Linked DNA regions of Homo sapiens. The protein of the gene in region 2 interacts with the protein of the main gene of each other region in a biochemical or structural test. Each region holds a gene or a part of one and is shown on either strand. Other genes may lie near its edges.

Region 1 (7,827 bases), on a different chromosome or scaffold from region 2:
GGGAGACTTTTCATTTTGTTCTGCACTAAGAAAAACTCTTCTGCCTTGGGATCCTGTTGATCTGTGACCTTACCCCCAACCCTGTGCTCTCTGAAACATGTGCTGTGTCCACTCAGGGTTAAATGGATTAAGGGCGGTGCAAGATGTGCTTTGTTAAACAGATGCTTGAAGGCAGCATGCTCCTTAAGAGTCATCACCACTCCCTAATCTCAAGTAATCAGGGACACAGACACTGCGGAAGGCCGCAGGGTCCTCTGCCTAGGAAAACCAGAGACCTTTGTTCACTTGTTTATCTGCTGACCTTCCCTCCACTATTGTCCCATGACCCTGCCAAATCCCCCTCTGTGAGAAACACCCAAGAATTATCAATAAAAAAATAAATTTAAAAAAAAAAAAAAAAAAAAAAGAACCTGGCAGGGCACGCAACCCAGTACCACTTACCTTTGGACCTAAACCCCACTTCCGAGGGTAAGTGTCTCTCTCCATGATCACTCTCTTGATCTTGGCTACTATACCATGGTCGCAGGTAGAGATGACCGCTGTGGTCATTAATGCAATAGCTACAGGCATTGAATAAAGAAAAGAATTATTTGAAGGGTGAAAGAATTGATAATTGATGAGCCCCAATTCTACTGTTGTATGCCACTTTAAAACTTTTAAAACTCTGAGCTACTACTTTAATTGGGGTTACCTTTGCTCAGGATGTGCATATGGAGGAAATACTCCATTATGAGAAGGAGGCCTTTGAAATGACGTTAAACTTCTGAAGTTAAAAAACACCTAACCAAAGCACCTAACGATACACATAACAGGCTTGCAGCTCAAGACGTCTATAAGAACGGCATGCACACTCCCTTTGGGGCCACAGAACCTTTGAAGTTTTAAGGATTCCTTTTCTGCTGCTGTCCATAAGCCGTGGCTGCCTTGCCTGCTCACAGAGCTAAGGAATCCTGATGACATGCTTACTTCTGGTACAAATTAGACCCATTAAATGAATAGCTCTAAGGTTCATTCACTAAGAGGGTGCGCAGAGCATTTAAAGTCTTAAGAGACAATCCAACAGTAGCTAAGCTTTCACAAGTTAAAAAACACTGGTACTTTACATGGAACCACAAAAGACTCAAAATAGCCAAAGCTATCCTAAGCAAAAAGAACAAACCTGGAGGAATCACATTACCTGACTTCAAATTATAGTATAGAGCTACAGTAACCAAAACAGTATGGTACTGGCATAAAAACAGGCACATAAACCAATGGAACAGAATAAGGAACCCAGAAACAAATGCACACACCTACATTTAACTCATTTTTGACAAAGGTGCCAAGAACATACACTGGGTAAAAACCAGTCTCTTCAATAAATGGTGCTGGGAAAACTAGATATCCATATGCATAAGAATGGGAGAAAATATCCGCAAACTACCCATCTGACAAGGGATTAATAACCAGAATATATAAGGAACTCAGCACTATAGGAAAAAAAATCTAATAATCTGATCAAAAAACAGGCAAAAGATTTGAACAGACACTTCTCAAAAGAAGACAAATAAATGGCAAACAGGCATATGAAAAAGTGCTCAATGCTGATCACGAGAGAAATGCAAATCAAAACTACAATGAAATATCATTTCACTCCAGTTAAAATGGTTTATATCCAAAAGACAGGCAATGACAAGTGCTGGCAAGGATGTGGAGAAAAGGGAACCTTTGTACACTGTTGATGGGAATGTAAATTAGTATAACCACTATGAAGAACAGTTTGGAGGTTCCTCGAAAAACTAAATTGAGCTACCATAGGATCCAGCAATCCCACTGCTGGGTATATACCCCAAATAAAGGAAATCAGTGTTATCAAAGAGATCACAGTAGCCAAGATTTGGAAGCAACCGAAGTGCCCATCGACAGATAAATGGATAAAGAAAATGTGGTACATATACACGATGGATTACTATTCAGCCTTAAAAAAGAATGAGATCCTGTCATTTCCAACAACATGGATGGAACTGAAGATCGTTATATTAAGTGTAATCGGCCAGTCACAGAAAGACAAACATTGCATGTTCTCACTTATTTGTGGGAGCTAAGAATCGAAACAATTGAACTCATGGACAGAGAAGAGTAAAAGAATGGTTACCAGAGACTGGGAGGGTAGTGGGGGGCTGGCAGGGAGGTAGGGATGGTTAATGGGTACAAAAAAAAAAAAAATCAGGCCCGGCATGGTGGCTCACACCTGTAATCCCAGCACTTTGGGAGGGCAGATCACCTGAGGTCAGAAGTTCGAGACCAGCCTGACCAACATGACAAAACCCTGTCTCTACTAAAAATACAAAAAATTAGCCAGGTGTCATGGTGTGCACCTGTAATCCTAGCTACTCGGAAGGCTGAGGCACGAGAATCGCTTGAACCTGGGAAGCAGAAGTTGCAGTGAGCCGAGGTCACGTCTCTGCACTGCAGTCTGGGTGAAAAGAGCAAGACTGTCTCAAAAAAAAAAAAAAAAAAAAAACACCACCACCAAAAAACCAAAAGAATGAACAAGAAGAGTGAGACTATTTAATAGCACAACGGGGTGACTATAATCAATAATAACTTAAGTGTATATTTTAAAATAACTAAGGTGATAAATAACTAACAGTAAAATAGGATTGTTTGTAACACAAAGGATAAATGCTTAAGATGGATGCCCCATTCTCCATGATGTGATTATTATGTATTGCATGCCTGTATCAAAACATCTCATGAACCCCATAAATATATACACCTAGTATGTAACCACAAACATTTAGAATTTAAAAAATAAACATCCCCTCTTACCCATGCAGATTGCTTCTCCTTTGGTGGTGATAACCACAATCTCCTGATTGACCTCAATGCCGTCCTCATATCGAAGAACACCTGGAAGCATAATCTTGGCCCCATAGCAGATGGCATTTACCTGCAGAGATGGCACCAAGTGTAAGGGGCCCAGCTGCTGCCCTCCACCCCACTCCCACACCAGAGTAAAGGAGGACAACAAGGGAGTGGGGCCTGACACCAGGAAACAGGGATGACACTTATAGCCCACTAGCTGCAAGGGGCATGAGTGGTACTCAGAAGAGCCACCTCACTGTGCTATAGGTACCACTCTCCGCACATTACACACGACTCAAAAGTAGTAAAGAAGACTTTCAGGTTTTCAGGTTCTAGAGACTCACAAGTATTTTCTTTTTTTTTTTTTTTTTTTTTTAATTTTCAGGCAGAACCTCCCTCTGTTGTCCAGGGTGGAGTGCAGTGGCACATTCTCGGCTCACTGCAACCTCCATCTCCCAAGTTCAAGTGATTCTCAGCCTCCCAAGGAGCTGGGATTACAGGCACGTGCCACCACGCCCAGCTAATTTTTGTATTTTTAATAGAGACAGGGTTTCACCATATTGCCCAGGCTGGTCTCAAACTCCTGAGCTCAAGCAATTTGCCTGGCCCGGCCTCCCAAAGTGCTGGGATTATGGGTGTGAGCCACCGCACGTGGTCCATATTTTCATTTGAAACATAAAAATAGCCTTGGCATTCCTTAATTACTCCTCTCTCCTCCTTATGAGGAGAAAGAACAGATTTACTGGAGATCCAGGCAATAACAGGCTCTTAAAGAACTTGAAAACAAGATTACTGAGCCCTGTTGAACCAATCACACAAAAGTCTTGGTGCAGAATTTATAGGTCAGTGGGTACAAGTTAAGGCTACCTCTCCAGAGGTTCAATGGTACCCAATGCACCCATCTGCCTCATACCATCTCCACTCACCTAGACCTCTTTTGATCACATTCTCCCCTCCCTTTACATTCACCCAGAAGCCAATGGTTTGATAAGGAGAGGACATCACATTTATGTTGTCCACTGTTTTGTGACTGAGTTTTTTCAACTATTATGGTGCCATCTTTCAGTATTTATTACAGCCTATACACATACAAAAAATGTGAACATCTATACAAGATTTGAATATAAATAATTACCAACTACAAACATTTTAAATATCCAGAAATTTTTATCCCTCAAGTTAGAGAAAAAGACAATGTTTTAATTTATAAAAGGCCAACTCTCTGATCATCATAAAAACACAGCTCACAGCCTTGATCTCCTGGGCTCAAGCTGGTCTCAAACTCCTTCCTGGACTCAAGTGATCCTCTTGCCTCAGCCTGCCAAAGTGCTAGGATTATAGGCATCAGCCACTGTGCCTGGCCTAATGTGCCTTATTTTTAAGTATGCCTACCATTAAACTTTTACTTTAAATTAATATACTTGGTTTGGACTTGAAAAAAATAAAATAAAACCCAAGGAAAACAATAAAAAGAGCAAGCCTCATCTTTGGAGTACGTTCTTTCCAAATATAAACTCCTAACCCGGAACTTACTGCACTGTCTTTCATAACCAGCCGTTTATGAGATGTCAACAGCTTTTCCAAAGGGTAAACAACTCGCCGCAGGTAACTCTCATCCTTGTGGTTATCATACAGCCACTGAGCATCAAGCACATCATGCATTGTCACCATGTGGTCCTGAAAAGCAGCCATGTATGAAAATAATTCAGTTTATTTGTATCTCAGCCCATCAGACCCCAAACTTCCTAAAACTGAATGTCACTTGTTTACTAGTCCAAGCTCATTATGTCTTCAGCCTCTTCAGTCCTGGCTCTTCCAGGCATCTTTTTTTTTTTTTTTTTTTTTTTTTTGAGACGGAGTCTCGCTCTGTCGCCCAGGTGGGACTGCGGACTGCAGTGGCGCAATCTCGGCTCACTGCAAGCTCCGCTTCCCGGGTTCACGCCATTCTCCTGCCTCAGCCTCCCGAGTAGCTGGGACTACAGGCGCCCGCCACCGCGCCCGGCTAATTTTTTTTGTATTTTTAGTAGAGACGGGGTTTCACCTTGTTAGCCAGGATGGTCTCGATCTCCTGACCTCATGATCCACCCGCCTCGGCCTCCCAAAGTGCTGGGATTACAGGCGTGAGCCACCGCGCCCTCTTCCAGGCATCTTTAACCGTTGAAGTATTAGACCCCAAGCAGGCATTTTTGTAGGCTGGGAGGCAAATGAATAGAATAATACTTTCTACCCAATCATCTCCCTTAGCCCATTTTAATGTCCCAAAGTTTAATTAACAGAACAGGGAAGCTGCCCTGGACTGAACTCAACACTTTGGAAAGCATCTTTCCCACGACATGAAGCAAGTGGAGTGCCATCAAAGGCTGGCAGATGGTAAGAACCAGCTCTAAAACTTCTAGCCCCGTAACACATACCTTTTCACTCATGACTCCAGAACGAACCCTCCGAAGCTCCTGCATCTGACCACCAACTCCCAATAACAAACCAAGGTGCACACATAATGTCCGAATGTAGGTGCCAGCCTCACAACTCACCCAAAAGATTCCTAAGATACACACACACAAAAGAAAAGCAGCACCTACTGTAAATACATCACTGGTTGAGAAATGCAGTTATCCTTCATCTGAGCCACCAAGACTAGAGGTGACAGACACACTTCTTAAAATATAAGCATTTGCTGTAAAGATCTGTAATTCTGGCCAGGCACGGTGGCTCACGCCTGTAATTCCAGCACTTTGGGAGGCAGAGGCGGGTGGATCACGACGTCAGGAGATCAAGACCATCCTGGCTAACATGGTGAAACCCCGTCTCTACTAAATGTACAAAAAATTAGCCGGGCATGATGGCGGGCGCCTATAGTCCCAGCTACTTGGGAGGCTGAGGCAGGAAAATGGTGTGAACCCGGGAGACAGAGTTTGCAGTGAGCCGAGATCATGCCACCGCACTCCAGCCTGGGCGACAGAGCGAGACTCCGTCTCAAAAAAAAAAAAAAAAAAAAAAAAAGATCTGTAATTCTGATATTAGCAGAATTTTTAACACTTAAGTTGCAGGTATATTCAGCATGGTATGTTTCATGGATGGGAGGAAAATTGGCATTGTCTTAAATTTACTTCTGACAACAGAAACTTCTAAGCAGTCAAAATTGCAACAAATAAAAAACACATGCAAAACATACTTTGGTGAAAACACTTACCTTTGAACAAAGCACCGAACTACACAAATGCAGAATGAAAACATTTCAACTCCAGCAGAAGCAGTCATCATAAAAGGTGTAAAAGCCATCTCACTTTACTAGGCACTGTTCACTTTTTCAACAAAAGATAACAAAAACTATCGCCCACAGACAATATCCCAGCTGTAGGGCAGGTTTTAGAAAGTCTTCAACTTCAAGGGCATCTACTTTTAATAAGAGAACAGAATCCTGAAGAATGTGTTCATACCCACTCACAGGCCTAATGACTCACCTAATCTTCTTTCAGGATCGTATTCAATCATTTTGCTCTCGTAGATGGTCCTCACTCGGAGCTGCCTCTTTACTGCAGCAATAAGTGGGGGTCGCTGGAATAAGGCACCTGTCAGAGTTTCTAGGGCCTAAGAACAAACACAAATGAAAACAAACACCTCATCAGAATGTACATGTGCAGTCACTGGTCCAGGCTGGCTGCAGCAGCCGACTGAAAAGGGGACAAAAGGAGTCAGTCAGGACAGCTAACCCATCTCCAGATGTTTAGGGGCTCAGAGATCCAAGTCAACAAAGGGTGTCCTCCCTACAATTGCAGACTTACCCTAGAAAGCTGGGTCCCCCCTTCAATAGCATTGTGCAGCCGGACAATCCCCACATACTCTTTGCCTGAAAAATGACAAAAGAGTAGTCAGGTGTGGCCACTGAGTTTTCTGTTTTCCATATTTCTTATATGCTCAGTCACTCCCATTTTGCACAGCAGGAAAAGCGGCAGTTTGACCTTGTGTTTCTATAAAATTTGCATTAAGAGAGATTTCATGGTGATGATGTGGGAAAGAATGAAGACACTTTCTCACTGGGAATTCAATGTACTAACAGGGACAGTTGGGAGTACTCAGTGTAGAAGCTGCGTGGAAAAAGCCTTGCAAGATAAGCAGGCTTTTCTCAGATAAAAATGAACGAAGGATACTTTAGGCAGAAGCGGTAGCACAGAGTGAGAAGCCTGGAGTGACAAGCTGAGAGCTGAACCCGGACAAATGGATCCAGTCAGCTTGATGAATACATGCTTAGTATGTGGAATTCCAAAAAGCGCGGACCACCAAGATCTGGCAGGGGACAGAACGTACACAGAAACCAAAACAATATCCTTGCTTTAGGATTTTTTTTTTTCTTAATGAAGAAATAGTTTCCAGCAGACAAAACATAGAAGGGAAATACAGAAAGCTTTTCACTCTAGCCAGTCCTTCCCTCCCTCTCCCACATACCTGCACTCTGTTGTGACTTCACCAAGCGAGTGGCTCGTTCTATGCACACGATTAAACAACCAGTCACCTTGGGATCCAGCGTACCACTGTGCCCTGTCTTCTCCACCCGAAGTATCCGTCGAATCCAGGCTACCACCTCATGGGAAGAGGGGTTAGAGGGCTTGTCAAGATTAATGAAACCTGTCCTGGAATGGAAAAAAAAAAAATTAATGTATCACCCACTCTTAATGCTCCAGTGAAACAACAAATCTGAAAAGTTAAAAAGAAAAATAATTCACTGCGGGTACAGGTTATATATTCAAGACAAAGCTATTCTGGCATGCCACTGCCTTCCTGAATAGCTGATGTGAAAGCATTTTCAAAAGAAAGTAAGTTTGCACAGTGCCTCCTCCCAACACTTACCTGATATAGTCCCCAATCTCTCTCTTCAGAGGATTTGAACCACATGCAAGAGGTGTATAGTGTGTTGTCCTTACATTCAGCTTATCAAAATTCTACAAAGCAACGACACAACACAAAACAAAATACCATGTCGTG
Region 2 (7,827 bases):
GAGTCATCACCACTCCCTAATCTCAAGTACCCAGGGACACAAACACTGCAGAAGGTGGCAGGGCCCTCTGCCTAGGAAAACCAGAGACCTTTGTTCACATGTTTATCTGCTGACCTTCCCTCCACTATTGTCCTATGACCCTGCCAAATCCCCCTCTCCGAGAAACACTCAAGAATGATCAATAAACACTAAAAAAAAAAAAAAAAAGAAAAATAAACTTGTTACATATTTAAAAAATGCATTGGGAAACAAATACAGGAAATATCAAAATACTAATATTGGTTGAATTAGATTAAGTGACAAAGTGACTTGCTAAGGTCATACGGTCAATGAGAAGTAGAGCTGGAATGTATTACAGTTCATTATTTTCTATCCCACCTTATATAAAAAGGTGCCAACTATTTGAATGCAAGGACTTTTTTGCTTATCTGTAGTGATGGATATCATAAAAATTATGCATGGATCTTTTTTTTGGTCCATGCTATCATTAGTGTTAGTGTATTTTATGCGTGGCCCAAGACAATTCTTCCAGTATGGCCCATGGAAGCCAAAGGGTTGGATACCATGGAACTGTTAAATTTCAGAGGGTCAGAACTATCACTGCTACTGATGGCAGCCCACCAGCAAAGAATGGGGCAACTTGTATATGTAGCTGAAATACCAATAAAAATAAGTTAGAATTGATTTATATTTTTAAAGTGCTACATTTAAAACAAAAATGAAAAACGTTCCTTTAATCCGGTCTAATAGGTATCATTCAATTTGAGTAAAACTGATTGTGCTCACAAACTGTGATGGGTCCAGACAGGTGCTTATTCACATAGACCTTAGCATTTTAGAGGGGAAAGAGATACACATCTAGATTCCTACAATATAAGGCAGGCATGAGAGGTGCCCAATGATCTCTCAACCAAGTGCTATGGGAACATCCATGAGAAAGACAGATGTTTCATTCATTCCTTTTCCTATAGGAAAATCTCTCTGAAGAAAGGGCTTTTATCTTTTTTCTTCCACATGGTATGGGTGGAGACAACTGGTTGCATAAGTGGCATATCTTGAAAAATATGAAATCTGGAACCAGAAGACCTGACCTATCTCTTATAAGACATATAACCTCAAACAAATCACTTTCTAAGGCTGCCAACCACAGAACATTTGCTGTAGTGAGCACCACACTCAAAACTTCCAGTGAAGCTTATAGTGAAGGGTGGTAGGGAGCGTTCTTTTCAGAAAAACAATTGGTAAAATCTGTAACTCAGAATGAGAGGCCAGGAGCTTCAGTTTCTCAGCTTTGCAAATATGCATTACAAGACACAGATATCATAGGGAAAAATAACATAGGGAAACCTAGTACGAAAGCAGAAGTAACAATAGATGTTGTTATAACTTCATCGATTCAATGTAAGAATGACTTTGCTACCTACGTTTCAATAGGTTTTTGCCAAAGCATATATCTGACTGTAAAAATGGAATGCTGTTTTTGTGCTAGTCAGAATTTAGCAATTACCTGGTATTTCAAACAAAACCTTACATAGTTTTTATTATTATAATCAAAAACATCAAACTAAACTAAGAAAAATACATGGCTCTTTTCAAACATAAAAATAAGGTGCTAGATTTCACTGATAAACTATATGTAGAAGAAATAAACCAGAAGGTAAAAGTGAGGAAAAAATTCCTTACGAAAATCATGGATCTACACTGCAGTAGAATTATTTAGACCTAAGAAGTTCACAGTAAAGAAAATACTAGAAAGCTCAATCATGTTGTGCTTGTAAAATTAAGAATAAAACTAGAAATTTTTATAAAAATTAGATAAACAAATGTTTTATTTCAAAAGAGAGAAAAAAATAGCTGGGCTACAGTTAAAATTTAACATACAAACTGAAAGCAACACGCCTGTTTAGGGAAAAGAAAGTTATGTTCAAATTGGTAAAGTTGAAAAAACAACTTTTGCAAAGTAATTTGAAGAGTTCCTGCTGGTTTCTCTCTCCTACCTCACTCCCCAATACATTATCCCATTTTTTAAAAGTACTATTAGCACAACAATTACAAAGAACCTAAGAATTTCACTTCATTTCCCACAACATAAAACCAAGAGAAAAAGTTTTTTCAGGGAAGGTCTGATAATCCCTACATCTACTTGGCAGCCTATATCTTTCTTCTTTAATGAAAAATAAACTTCTCTCTAGCTAATAAAGAATATCACAAAGAGAGAAACAGGCACTCACAGAAATGAGATCCTGGTACATACCTCAATATTCATTACATGTTTACAAAATCATCATTCCTAAAAAAAAGAAAAACCAAAACCCACACAAATAGACTATCCCCATTTAATTTTATTATGAAAATGAAAGTAACAACAGGAAATGGCAGCAGGGTATTTGATAAGCTCAATTAGCAGGAGGATCAAATGAAGTGATGACATGCCATTATGACCTCAGGGGTTAAACATTCAATTTTCCATCTGGCGAAATCTAGATTTCCAACACAAATGCTGACACCACCTGCTGTATGTTATTAGGCATTATCTTGAGCAATCCCTAAGCATTTTCTGTACAACAGGTATAGCCTCAAGTTTTTTCATATTTCATTCTGCAATATAATTGCTCCCCCATGAAGAGAAATAAAAAATAAATCCCATATAATGGCTCATTCAAAACAGACATTAAAATCCACACTAAAGCATTTATTTATCAATCATGGCGGTAGCAAAAATATCAAGACTATTTTTCTTCTAAGTCACAATTGACATTGTAGCTATCATTTTCTATAGCACCTAGGAGTCATTCCAATTAAGAGTTCCCTTTATAGGTTTTTTGTTTTGTTTTTTTTTTAATACAGACAGGGTCTCACTATGTTGCCCAGGCTGGTCTTGAACTCCTGAACTCAAGCGATCCTCCTGCCTCAGCCTCCCAAAGTGCTGGGATTACAGGCATGAACCAACATGCCTGGCCCATTTATAGATTCTTAATTAATAGCCTCTTGCTACTGAAATGGAATTTTGTCATGTCTAATAAGAATCAGATCTACAGAACTTCACGAAATAAAAATTCACTGCATTTTAAAATGTAATCGTTAATCTACTATGTTTCTTTGATTGACGCAATGGTAAACACTTTTAAAAATTTTTATATACCAAGTGCTGGAGCTCATTTGTGAGTGTTCAGACCCTTCCATACATGCATTATCAAGAATCATGCTATTAGGCTCTGCAGGTGGTAAGCCAGTGGCTAGCCAATAAATGCAGAGCTCTCATCTGGATTCAACTGATGCAGTTTGCATACTAAAATGTTTGCACACACAAACATGAATGCACATACATCTACACACACTCACACTCTACTGTAAGTGAAATACAGATACAAGTTCAGATACCCAGTCTTGAGATTTCATACTGGACAGTCAATAGCAAGGCAATCAATATCACAACTGTTTTAATACCTGTTTTCCAGGACATACCAATACCAATTTTTTCTAATAAAATTAACTTTTTACCATCTGTGTACCTCCTTCCCTAAGCAAATTCACCAAGCTCCCCATGTTAATCCAGTTGCTTTTTAGTGTTTGGTAGGTCTATGGGTTTCCTTCTCATTAAAACTTATTCCTGGCCAGGCACAGTGGCTCACACCTGTAATCCCAGCACTCTGGGAGGCCGAGGTGGGTGGATCACCTGAGGTCAGGAGTTCAAGACCAGCCTGGTCAATGTGGTGAAACCCCGTCTCTACTAAAAATAAAAAATTAGCTAGGCGTGGTGGCACACGCCTGTAATCCCAGCTACTCGGGAGGCAGAGGCACAAGAATCACTTGAACTTGGGAGACGGAGGTTGCAGTAGCTGAGATCACACCAATGCACTCCAGCCTGGGTGACAAGGGCAAACCTCCATCTCAAAAAAAAAAAAAAAAAAAAAAAAAAACACAACTTACTCCTCAGGTTATTTCGTTTTCTTCCTCCTGGGTAAATAGGTATTTCAGCAATGTGAACATCTAAAAATTCGTAAGTAACTCTATGAAAACTTACTTGACTTTCTGAATCCACACACAGTAGTCTGAGATGTAGAGATCATTCAGTATGTACGCTGGGTCATTTTCCTGAAAAATTTTGTGAATATCCAGGAGACACTTTAAAACTGCACTTTTACCTAAAGAAAATTGAAAAAACATAAAATTATCCTTAAGAAAAAGAAATTCAGACCCTGAGAGGTAATATATCTAAAGCAGCTCAGAATCCTGATCATTTCTTAAGAACATTTTTAAATGCAAAAAAATTTATGAGTCCTATTAGGTCCAAACCCCTTTACTGATTTCCTTAAGAATTACATACAATCTTTGGCCAGGCACAGTGGCTCACACCTGTAATTCCAGCACTTTGGGAGGCCGAGGCGGGCAGATCACGAGGTCAGGAGATCGAGACCATCCTGGCTAACACGGTGAAACCCTGTCTCTACTAAAAATACAAAAAATTAGCCAGGCGTGGTGACAGGCACCTATAGTCCCAGCTACTCGGGAGGCTGAGGCAGGAGAACGGCGTGAACTGGGGAGGTGGAGCTTGCCGTGAGCCAAGATCGCGCCACTGCACTCCAGCCTGGGCGACAGAGAAAGACTCCATCTCGAAAAAAAAAAAAAAAAAAGAATTACATATAATCTTTATATTCTGTTGTTACAGCTGACTAGTTGTGGTTATCATTAAAATGCTATGAAATACAACTAGGTCAATTAAATGAAAGGCAGGAAAGTTTTCTAAACCAAATGAATATCTAAATGCATCATAATTTTTATTAGATAATGTTCTTCCAATTCAAGCTTTCAACATAACATGGAAAACTGTATTCTAAATTTCAAACTTCTTTATTTCTTATGTCAACATTTTCTGTCAAGGAGTTATCTACTAATAACAAATTATTTTACCTTAAAGAATTGAAGAAAACTGAACACTAAAACATCATAGCACTACTTCAGAAATAAGCTGACAAAACTCACATGAACAAAAGCCATCAAGTATTAAAGCCTTGTTCAACCTAACTACTTCCTCCTGGTTTTTAAATGAACCTAGTTTTAACCCAACCAAAGTCTACAAAAGGAGCCTTTTACAACTCAGCAATTCCCTAGGTGTTCCAAACTTCATGATATTTCCTGAAATTTATTAATTATAAGGTGAACTATTAATTCTACATCTAGAGTAGTACCATTTTCTTTGATCTGTGAAATTCAGTATTTTCAGTTTAACAGTTTCATTCTTATCTTTACAGTTCTGAAACGCGGAAATACTGTATACTGAGTTCATGAAGATACTGGATGCACTTTCATTGACATTTCCCATTTAACTTTTAGATCATAAAAGAATCATGAGCTAGATGATGACATCTCAAGATCCTAAAATTGCTGACACTAAATTTTTTAACATAATTAACACTAGAAAGTAAGTTTCAAAAGAGCAGGGGCTTCTGTTTTATTTAGTGGTTAATCCCCAATACCTAGAACAGAACACCGCAACAGCAGGTTTTCCATTTAAGTGTTCTAAGAATGAATGAATACATGATAGACACAGTAATCACCCAGCTTAAACCTTGAAAATTTCTTTCATTCTACGGTCTCACCCGTCAAATCCTGATGATTTTTCCTTGGAGATGCTCCTTGTATCTGCCCTTTCTATGCCATTGCCTGAGCTCCTATGTTCACTCATATTCTCATCTCATGCCTCGATTTTAAGAATCCTCTTTCCCATCTTTCAGATTCCAGACTCTACCCCTTCAAACACACATTTTTTAATGCACTGCTTTCATGGAGTCTCTTCCCTGCATATGTTCTCAATGCTCTTTCTACAGACTTGTTTCCATGCCTTTTTCCCTTCTCCATGTGACCTAGCCCACTATCAAGGTCTAGCTCCAGTCTTCATTCCTTCGGGAAGTTCTGGGCTGACTTTCCTAGTCTTCACGGTCCTTTACTATAATGCTGCCAAGAAGTGGAAAGGAAACTCAAAATGGGGAAAGTCCTCCCCATAACCTCTCCTGTTCAATTCCCAGAAGGAAAACTGGAGGCTTCAGGATGGGTAAGATACAGGGCCACTGAGTTGAGGGACCAAGATCTAAATTCCAATCTTAATGGCTCCAGAGGCTACCCACTGTGCCATGCTACCTGTATGTTCTTGCCTCATCCAGTCTATATCACAACGTTTTTATTACTCAAGGACTTATTACTGACTTTAACCCCTAAGTAGGTAGTAAGTCTGAAAACAGAGTCCATACCTTTTTAAAAAATATTAACTTTGTGGCTTCCTCATATGCAGATACAATAAAGAATGAATGAAGAATGTCAATGAAAGCTCCACTGCTAGACTGACTGTGAAGAGAAACTAACACTTAGAAGGCCTAAAGCTACAAGATGTCAAGTTCATTTGGTTAAGGCAAGGTCAGTGCTATGGCTTATCAAAGTGGCACAGGTTAACTATGTCAAATGATTAGTGTGGATCACCCCAGCACAAGCCTATTTTAATTACAAACTAGGTAATGTTGAGAGCAGGGTTTGATGAAAGGAGGAGGAAATATAATCAAAATTTGCAGGCATGATGAAACCATGTTTGCCACACTAGCCATGTTACCCAAAGAATCAAGGAACAACTGACCTGTAAGAATGTTTTGAAGTTTTAATTGCCACAGAGAAGACAAATGTCACAGTAAGCATAGGCCAACTAATTTCTTTCTTGCTTTCCTTCTCTCTCTCTTTTTAGAGGAAGGAGGGTGCAGAGGGAAGGAGTTAGTTTTAGAACTACTAAAAGTTTTAAATGTCAATCGTAAGTCTTTACTGGAAAAACGAACTATTCTCTTGTAACTTGAATAAGCTTCTCTGCTGTGTGACACCTCCAGAATACTCTCTCTCAAGATCCCACACTTTACTAATATAAACAGGTTAACAGAAAATGCAGGATTGGGGCTAGGCGTGGTGGCTCACGCCTGTAATCCCAGCACTTTGGGAGGCCAAGGCAGGCGGATTACGAGGTCAGAAGTTCGAGACCAGCTTGGCCAGCATGGTGAAACCCCATCTCTACTAAAAATACAAAAATGAGCCAGGCGTGGTAGTGCACGCCTGTAGTCCCAGCTACTCGGGAGGCTGAGGCAGGAGAATCACTGGACCCGGGGAGGCAGAGGTTGCAGTGAGCCAAGATTGCGCCACTCACTCCAGTCTAGGTGACAGAGTGAGACTCCATCTCAAAAAAAAAAAAAAAAAAAAAAAGAAAGAGAAAAAGAAAATGCAGGATTTGGAGAAAACCATTTGGCTAGAGCAAAGAGTTCATGTAAGGAAAAAAAGGAGAATAAGCAGATGAGTTTGGTAGAAATCAGACACTAACAAGGAGGAAGAGAAGAATGCACTTGGACAGACTGAGTGAGAACGTCTCTAAACTTAGGTGTGGGCAGTAGGAATAAAGGACCCTACTCCCGAGATCATAATGTAAAAAGGTATGGAGTTAAGGTCACATATTTAATGAGGATCCACAGCAGCCATTACCTGATAAAATTATACACAGCTTCACTTACCAGACATGCCTAAAGTGAGGCTGCCCTCTTGCTAAAGGCCACAGGCAAATTTAAATCTTCCAGCTATCACAAAAAAAATAAGAATAACAATGAAAAGAAATGTCAAATAACAGGCAGGGCATGGTGGCTCATGCCTCTAATCCCAGCACTTTGGAAAGCCGAGGTGGGCAGATCACCTGAGGTCAGGAGTCCGAGACCAGCCTGGTCAACATGGTGAAACCCCATCTCTACAACAATAAAAAAATTAGTCGGGCATGGTGGCATACGTCTGTAATCCCTGCTACTCGGGAGG

What was found.
Region 1: the proteins of SHQ1 (region 2) and DKC1 are reported together in a solved structure, tested with the Homo sapiens proteins (2 studies listed by BioGRID, with this or other methods).

What each region holds. Positions count from the first base shown.
Region 1 is NC_000023.11:154,765,864-154,773,690, reverse strand, and holds part of DKC1 (H/ACA ribonucleoprotein complex subunit DKC1), read right to left. Parts: intron 7,785-7,827; coding exon 7,693-7,784; intron 7,476-7,692; coding exon 7,291-7,475; exon of another isoform or gene 6,695-7,290; coding exon 6,630-6,694; intron 6,436-6,629; coding exon 6,309-6,435; intron 5,390-6,308; coding exon 5,259-5,389; exon of another isoform or gene 4,889-5,258; intron 4,525-4,888; coding exon 4,381-4,524; intron 2,933-4,380; coding exon 2,812-2,932; intron 561-2,811; coding exon 442-560; intron 1-441.
Region 2 is NC_000003.12:72,788,892-72,796,718, forward strand, and holds part of SHQ1 (protein SHQ1 homolog), read right to left. Parts: intron 4,146-7,827; coding exon 4,025-4,145; intron 1-4,024. UniProt on the Homo sapiens protein: Required for the quantitative accumulation of H/ACA ribonucleoproteins (RNPs), including telomerase, probably through the stabilization of DKC1, from the time of its synthesis until its association with NOP10, NHP2, and NAF1 at the nascent H/ACA RNA.